3 separate regions of the Homo sapiens genome follow, and all the other regions are linked to region 2. Evidence: fine-mapped QTL for protein levels in blood plasma. A gene starts in region 2. Each other region holds a variant in brackets. All regions are shown on one strand. Distances are from middle to middle.

Region 1 (2,758 bases), 44 kb before region 2:
GCTGGATGCTTGTCATTTATTATTAGTCCTCTTTCACAAAGGAAGATTTATTTTTTACTTTTTATTTTTGAGGCAGAGTTTCGCTCTGTCGCCCAGGCTAGAGTGCAGTGGCGCAATCTCAGCTCACTGCAAGCTCCACCTCCTGGGTTCACACCATTCTCCTGCCTCAGCCTCCTGAGTAGCTGGGACTACATGCGCCCGCCACCGTGCCCGGCTAATTTTTTGTATTTTTAGTAGAGACGGGGTTTCACCGTGTTAGCCAGGATGGTCTCGATCTCCTGATCTCGTGATCCACCCGCCTGGGCCTCCCAAAGTGCTGGGATTACAGGCGTGAGCCACCGCGCATGGCCACAAAAGAAGATTTAAGAGCTAAATGACATCCAATCCTAATAAGTCTTACCTCTGCTTAATTAGCTTTCTGAGATCAGGTAGGAAATGGAAAGCAATTTTTTTTTTTTTTGAGAGAGAGTTTCGCTCTTGTTGCCCAGGCTGCAGTGCAATGGCATGATCTCAGCTCACCTCAACCTCCGCCTCCCGGGTTCAAGTGATTCTCCTGCCTCAGCCTCTCGAGTAGCTGGGATTACAGGCATGAGCCACCACGCTGGGCTAATTTTGTATTTTTAGTAGAGACGGGGTTTTCCATTTTGACCAGGCTGGTCTCGAACTCCCGACCTCAGGTTATCCGCCTGCCTCGGCCTCCCATAGTGCTGGGATTACAGGTGTGAGCCACCAGGCCCAGCCTGGAAAGCAATTTTCTTACCCATAGGAGCACAAGTGAAATGGGCTGGTTTAAATTTCTGGATAAAAATTTATATTTGCATATCATCTGTTATCAAAATATTTACAAAATGTGTAACTGGAGCTGGATGTGGTGGCTCATTCCTGTAATTCCCACACTTTGGAAGGCTGAAGTGGGAGGATTGCTTGAGGCCAGGAGTTTGAGACCAACCTGGTTAATGTAGCTAGACCCCATATCTATGAAAATTATAAACTTTAAATTTAAAACCCAAAATATGTGACTACTCTATATCCTAAAACAAAATGTAAGGTTTTTTTTTTTTCTTTTTAGACAGTCTCACCCTGTTGCCCAGGCTGGAGTGCAGTGGTGCGATCTTGGCTCACTGTGACTTTCGCCTCCCAGGTTCGAGTGGTTCTCATGCCTCAGCCTCTCGAGTAGCTGGGATTACA[G/C]GCGTGTGCTACCATGCCCAGCAAATTTTGTATTTTTATTAGAGATGGAGTTTTGCCCTGTTGGCCAGGCTGGTCTCGAACTCCTGACCTCAAGTGATTCACCCACCTTGGCCTCCCAAAGTGCTGGGATTACACATCTGAGCCACCATGCCGAAACCCAAAATTAAGTCTTATAAATCTGAAGCTCAAGATGACAACCTATAGAGGTTAAAAATCAAACTGCCAAGGCTCAAATACTGGCTCATTATCTTAGGTGTGCAATCTCCTGGGCAAGTTTCTTTACCTCTTGGGGCTTCAGATTCCTTCACTCTAAAATAGGGGTAAGAAAAAAATGCTTTTTTGTTTGTTTCTTTTTGTTTTTGTTTTTGTTTTTGTTTTGAGACAGAGTCTCGTTCTGTGGCCAGGCTGGAGTGCAGTGGTGCGATCTCAGCTCACTGAACCTCCGCCTCCCAGGTTCAAGCGATTTTCCTGCCTCATCCTCTGAGTAGCAGTAGCTGGGACTATAGGCGCGCGCCACTACACCCAACTGATTTTTGTATTTTTAGTAGAGACTGGGCACCATGTTGGCCGGGATGGTCTCGATCTCTTGACCTCGTGATCCGCCCACCTCGGCCTCCCAAAATACTGGGATTACAAAAAACTGCTTTCTTAAAGATAAAAAGAGATAATGCACGTACGTCTTTAGCACAGTGTCTAACAGTTAAGTATTGATAACTTGACCTGGATATTATTTTTGGCATTTAATGTTCAGCAAGCTAGTTTTGACCATGTACTTTCCTATTCGTAAGTGACTGTGCTTTGGAATATACTAGAAAATGTATGTAAAATGTCTGGTTTTAAAAAGATGAAACCACAATATATTCAATTCCCTTTGGAAGTTAGCCATGTATCGCTTTTCTAAATTTTACAAAAAGGAGAGTTACAAAACGTTACTCTGTTAATCAAGGATAAGGCTGAAATGGAGAGTTTTTTTTTTTAATGGAAATGGACTGCACTATAAAAACATTTGATTGAAATGAAAGAAGCTGTAATGTGGTCAAATGATGATTTCTATCTTAATGCTGGACTGATGCAAGCCAAAGAAGGGTCAATGTTGCCGCAGGATTACAAGCCCTGCTGAAAGAGATGCATGATGCAACCTCTGTAGTGAACAGAGTCAACTCTTGAGTCACCAGTCTAACCTTTGAGAAGCACTAAGGAAAAAGAAAATTCTTGAGTACTGAGTCACAGGCTCAACATCTTAATAAAGTGTGTTTAGGATGTTTTAGTGGTATCTGGACACAGTATACCCATGAATCTCAAATATTTCATATCAGAGCTTTGCCCTTTCCATAGTAGGTCCTCCAAAAACATTCCTCAAACAAATGAATTTTTTTTTTTTTTTTGAGATGGAGTCTAGCTCTGCTGCCCAGGCTGGAGTGTAGTGACGTGATCTCGGCTCACTGCAACCTCCACCTCCCGGGTTCAAGCGATTCTCCTGCCTCAGCCTCCCGAGTAGCTGGGACTACAGGCATGCACCACCACGCCCAGCTAATTTTTGGATTTTTATAGAGATGGGGTTTCATCGTGT
Region 2 (2,758 bases):
TTTCACTATGTTCGCCAGGCTGGTCTTGAACTTGGCTCGCCTCGGCCTCCCAAAGTGCTGGGATTACAGGCGTGAGCCACTGAGCCCGGCCATTTATTTATTTTTTAATTAAAAATAGAAACGGGGCTGGGAGCAGTGGCTCACGCCTGTAATCCCAGCACTTTGGGAGGCCGAGGCAGGCGGATCATGAGGTCAGATCGATACCATCCTGGCCAACATGGTGAAACCCTGTCTTTACTAAAAATACAAAAAAAATTAGCTGGGCGTTGTGGCCCACGCCTGTAGTCCCAGCTACTCAGGAGGCTGAGGCGTGAGAATTGCTTGAACCCAAGAGGCGGAGGTTGCAGTGAGCCGAAATTGCGCCACTTGCACTCCAGCCTGGCGACAGAGCAAGACTCCTCCTCAAAAAAAGAAAAAAAAATAGAAATGGAGGTTTCGCTTTGTTGTCCAGGCTGGTCTCGAACTCCTAGCCTCAGGCAATTCTTCCACCTCAGCCTCCTAAAAAGCTGGGATTACAGGTGTGAGCCACTGCTCTCCGCTCAAAGGACAAAATATTTAAAGAAGCTGAGAAATACTGAGCTCTGGGATAAATCTTGGCCTCAACATAGCATAGAAAGTAAGGCCTTCTGCTGTTGAGCTTTTTTCCCGTGAACTCACCTCCACAATCTCTTGCATTATTGGTTTTTTTGCTGTTCTTGTAATATGGCAGGCCTTTTCATAATTTTGCAGCCTGTTCTGCTTCCCCTATTTGGAATGTCGCTTCCCTTCTGGGAAATTTGCAAACTCCTAGTTAACCTTCAAAGCCCAGTTCAAAAGTCCCTTCCCTGGTGAAACCTTCCCTGATTTGCCCTTTTCTCTTCCACCCACATCCAAGTTACTTCCTTCTTCCACCCACTGGGCTCTGAAGGTATTAGCCATCACCATTGCAGGAATCATTTGGAATGTTTATCTATTTAAGGCTTCTAGACTAGATTCTAGATTAAATTCCACTAGACTAAGTTCCTAGAGGGCTGGGCCTGTCAGATCCATTCCGAGAACCTACCAATGGACCTGGCATGGAGTAGAAGTGGGGGAGTGGCTAGTGAATGAAGAAAGAAAATAGATTGAGAGATGAATGGATAAATCTCACCTGCGGCCTAGGCCACTGACAGCTGTCCCCAAAGTCCAGAGCTCAGTTAGGCTGGCTTCACGTGGGCGGGACCTCCCGCAGCAGCCGCCGCTACCAGCCCAGCAAATCTCATCCCCACGTGGCAGTTCTAGGGGATAGGAGACGGGGTCGGGAAAGAACAGGCTGATTCGGTCAAAGTGGCCGGGACGGAGCCAGGGAAGGCCCTTCCCCGTTCTTTGCACCCGGCTTGGGCCCACTCCCCTAAAAGATTCAGACTCCCTGCCCGAGACCGTGATAGACCCGGTATCCGGGGACCCTCGCCCCTACCCTCCAGCCCCGGACTGCAATACCTGCGGCGACTTAGGCCAGTCGCGAGCCGTGACTCCACCCCGGAGGGGCGGGGCTTAGGTCCGGGCCCTCCTCCCAGGACCCGGAAGAGCGTCCGGGCCAACCGCTCCCTCTTCCCTGCTCCGCCCCGAGGGCCCGGCGCTGACTTCCTGGGCTGGCGGTGGAGGGGTCCCCCAGACCGGGAGTGGACGCCAGGCTCTGCATTTCTCGGGAACCAAGTGGGGTGGGCCTTCCCTGGGTCCCTCCCTCCCGGACGGGATAAATAAGCCGGGGCTACTTGGAAACGATTTGCGCAATGCCGGGTTCGGGCGTCCGTTTGGGGAACTCAGATGCCTGCGGCAGCTGATCTACTCTGTAAGGGGCTAACAGGGCTGGGCGCCACCACACTCCAGCTTGGGCAACAGCGCAAAAACTCCCTCTCAAAAAAATAAATAAATAAAAGGGGGGGAGGGTATAACAGTTACATTTCCAGTTACAACGATTGTTTTTTTTTTTTTTTTTTGAGACGGAGTCTCGCTCTGTCGCCCAGGCGGGACTGCGGACTGCAGTGGCGCAATCTCGGCTCACTGCAAGCTCCGCTTCCCGGGTTCACGCCATTCTCCTGCCTCAGCCTCCCGAGTAGCTGGGACTACAGGCGCCCGCCACCGCGCCCGGCTAATTTTTTTTGTATTTTTAGTAGAGACGGGGTTTCACCTTGTTAGCCAGGATGGTCTCGATCTCCTGACCTCATGATCCACCCGCCTCGGCCTCCCAAAGTGCTGGGATTACAGGCGTGAGCCACCGCGCCCGGCCACAACGATTGTTAACAGTTTCTAAAGGGGAGAGTTGAGCATGCAATCCTCCTGCGCAGTCTTCGGGCCAGCTCAAGATTTGGTGCTTTAAACAGCTGATTCATTCCATAATTGCCATTTGTAATTATGGCAGGTGCTATGCTGAGCCAGACACCACCACGCTTTGCCTCCAGGAGCAAGTCTTAACTAGAGAGAGATCAAAGAAAAAGACAACTAGGGACGACTGCCAAGAGTGCAATAAATATAAAGTTCAGCCAGGAGAGTATCTGTTCTGAAGTTACTTTCCTCCAGGCCTCAGGGTTGTCTGTTTGTAACCATGGAGCTAATAAGATTTCTATCATAGGCTGGGCGCGGTGGCTCACGCCTATAAGTCCAGCACTTTGGGAGGCCGAGGCGGGCGGATCACGAGGTCAGGAGTTCGAGACCAGCCTGGCCTACATGGTGAACGCCCCCGCCCCCCCCCCCAACTAAAAACACAAAAATTAGCTAGGCGTGGTGGTGGGCGCCTGTA
Region 3 (2,758 bases), 300 kb after region 2:
ATTTTCTGTCTCTTTGAGTTTGGACACTCTAGATACCTCCTGTTGGTGGAATCATACAATGTTTGTCCTTTTGTGTCTGGCTTATTTGACTTAGTATATACATCTTCAGTGTTCATCTATGTTGTAGCATATGTCAGACTTTCATTCCTTTTTTTTTTTTAACAGAATTTTTTTTTTTTTTAGAATTTTTTTGAGATGGAGTCTTGCTCCGTCATCAGGCTGGAGTGCAGTGGCACGATCTCGGCTCACTGCAACCTCCGCTTCCTAGGTTCAAGCAATTCCCCTACCTCAGCCTCCCGAGTAGCTGGGACTACAGGCGCGCGCCTACAGGCACGCTCCACCACGCCTGGCTAATTTTTTGCATTTTAGTAGAGATGGGGTTTCACCATGTTGACCAAGATGGTCTCAATCTCCTGACCTTGTGACCCGCCCACCTCGGCCTCCCAAAGTGCTGGGATTACAGGTATGAGCCACTGTGCCTGGCCTATTCCTTTTTAAGACTGAATAATATTCCATTATATGTATAGACCACATTTTGTTTCTCCATTCATTCATTGATGAACACTTGAATTCCATTTGTCTTTTTTTTTTTTTTTTTTTTTGGTCTTTTTCTCCCCTTTTTGTGGAGAACAGGGTCTCCCTATGTTGCCCAGGCAGGTCTCCAATTCCTGGGCTCAAGCTATACCTTTGTTTCCCTAAGTGCTTGGCTTGCAGGCACGAGCCCCCGTTCTGTAAGCCCAGTACTTAGGGAGGCAAAGGCATAGCTTTTTTTTTTTTAGACAAAATCTCGCTCTGTTGCCCAGGCTGGAGTGCAGTGGTGCGATCTTGGCTCACTGCAACCCCCACCCCGCAGGTTTAAGCAGTTTTTGTGCCTAAGCCTTCTGAGTAGCTGGGACTACACATATAGACCACCACGCCTTGTATTTTTAGCAGAGATAGGGTTTTGCCATGTTGGCCAGGCTGGTCTCGAACTCCTGGCCTCAAGTGATCCACCCGTCTTGGCCTTCCAAAATGCTGGGATTACAGGCATAAGCCACCGCACCCAACCCACACCCAGCTTTTGATGGACATTTGCGTTGTTTCTATCTTTTGGCTGTTGTGAATAATGCTACCATGAACGTTCCTGTACAAGGTTTTTGTGTGGACTTAGTGTTTTCATTTCTCTTCAGTGTATACCTAGGAATAAAATTGCAGGGTGATATGGTAACTTTTTCTTTAATCTCTTGAAGATCTGAATCTATCTTGAACTTGGCTTCTAAATTGAGACTTAGGTATTTTCTGATCTCAGGAGTGTAAAACAACGTCTTAGTTTTGGCGCTACCACCAATAAAATTTGCAGTCATGAGCTAGTAACAATCCTGTTCTTCTCC[G/A]TGGACTAGTAGCCCCTTTCTCATGGGATTGTTTCGGTTAAATCTAAGATGTGAATGTATGTGAGGAGCCTAGGCCTTAAAAACGTCCTCTCCTTGGCTGGACACGGTGGCTCATGCCTGTAATCCCAGCACTTTGGGAGGCTGAGGCGGGCGGATCACAAGGTCAGGAGATCGAGACCATCCTGGCTAACACGGTGAAACCCTGTCTCTACTAAAAATACAAAAAATTAGCTGGGCATGGTGGCAGGCGCCTGTAGTCCCAGCTACTCAGGAGGCTGAGGCAGGAAAATGGCGTGAACCCAGGAGGCGGCGGAGCTTTCAGTGAGCCGAGATCGCGCCACTGCACTCAAGCCTGGGCGACAGAGCAAGACTGTCTCAAAAAGAAAAAAAATCCTCTCCTTGTGTGTCTACCTCTCCTTCACCAAGCTGCATACAGCCTTCCTTGTGCTTATGTTTAATAATAAAGCTCCCCAGCTGGGCGCGGTGAATCACACCTGTAATCCCAGCACTTTGGGAGGCCAAGGCAGGCGGATCATGAGGTCAGGAGATCGAGACCATCCTGGCTAACACAGTGAAACCCCGTCTCTACTAAAAAATAGAAAAAATTAGCTGGGTATGGTGGCAGTTGCCTGTAGTCCCAGCTACTCAGGAGGCTGAGGCAGGAGAATGGCGTGAACCCGGGAGGTGGAGCTTGCAGTGAGCCGAGATCATGCCACTGCACTCCAGCCTGGGCGACAGAGCGAGACTCCATCTCAAAAATAATAATAATAATAATAAAGCTCCCCAAGGCCAGACCTTATTCAGTAAATAAGAAGGCTTTCTAAGAGAAATTCATAGATGTAGCTTGAATCTGGTAAAACTGCCATCTTGGAGAGCCAAGTGCAACTCAGTACTAGACAGTGAGTCCCTGAGGGCCAGTCTACATCTGTCCCACTCACGGCACTGGCCTCGTGCCCAGGTGCAGTTCCTGGTATGGAGTCAGTCTTGCTCAGTATTTGTGGAATGAGTAAATCCTGAATTTGTATTGTGAACAGTAATTCCACTTCAAGGAATCTGTCCTAAGGAAGTGATTCAAACCAGTTAAAAAAATACTGTGTGTCCTGGCCAACATGGTGAAACCCCGTCTCTATTAAAAATACAAAAATTAGCAACCAGGTGCGGTGGCTCATGCCTGTAATTGCAGCACTTTGGGAGGCCGAGGTGGGCGGATCACGAGGTCAGCAGATCGAGACCATCCTGGCTAACATGGTGAAACCCTGTCTGTACTAAAAATACAAAACATTAGCTGGGTGTGGTGGCATGTGCCTGTAGTCCCTAGCTACTCAGGAGGCTGAGGTAGGAGAATCACTTGAACCCAGGAGGTGGAGGTTACAGTGAGCCAAGATTGC

Alleles and levels. Positions count from the first base shown, and alleles are read on the strand shown. Strength reflects both the effect of a copy and how common the allele is.
For the plasma level of the protein whose gene starts at base 1,494 in region 2, allele C in region 1 goes with a lower level than allele G (weak association).
In carriers of allele A in region 3, the plasma level of the protein whose gene starts at base 1,494 in region 2 tends to be lower than with G alone (weak association).

Evidence for each region. A credible set is the group of variants that fine-mapping cannot tell apart. PIP is the posterior inclusion probability: the model's chance that the variant is causal. Protein levels are from antibody-based Olink assays in UK Biobank. Linkage for the fine-mapping came from a reference panel and not from the study's own genotypes, which makes the PIPs less certain.
Region 1: its variant is the best candidate, but not a certain one, in a credible set for the plasma level of the RABEPK protein (UK Biobank, PIP 0.85).
Region 3: its variant is the best candidate, but not a certain one, in a credible set for the plasma level of the RABEPK protein (UK Biobank, PIP 0.67).

Annotation. Positions count from the first base shown.
Region 1 is chr9:125,243,038-125,245,795 of GRCh38, reverse strand. All of the region lies in intron 1 of HSPA5-DT (HSPA5 divergent transcript), which reads right to left. Among named protein-coding and RNA genes, the nearest start is that of HSPA5-DT, 2.8 kb to the right of the region's middle. The variant G/C (reference allele first, on the strand shown) is at 1,189.
Region 2 is chr9:125,199,278-125,202,035 of GRCh38, reverse strand. It overlaps RABEPK (Rab9 effector protein with kelch motifs), which reads right to left and starts at 1,494. Exons shown (of 8, transcript NM_005833.4): 1 at 1,130-1,494. It overlaps LOC105376271 (a long non-coding RNA gene), which reads left to right and starts at 1,640. Exons shown (of 2, transcript NR_135145.1): 1 at 1,640-1,810; 2 at 2,381-2,503. RefSeq lists a silencer at 1,567-1,616.
Region 3 is chr9:124,901,496-124,904,253 of GRCh38, reverse strand. All of the region lies in intron 12 of GOLGA1 (golgin A1), which reads left to right. Among named protein-coding and RNA genes, the nearest start is that of GOLGA1, 38 kb to the left of the region's middle. RefSeq lists an enhancer at 394-894. The variant G/A (reference allele first, on the strand shown) is at 1,371.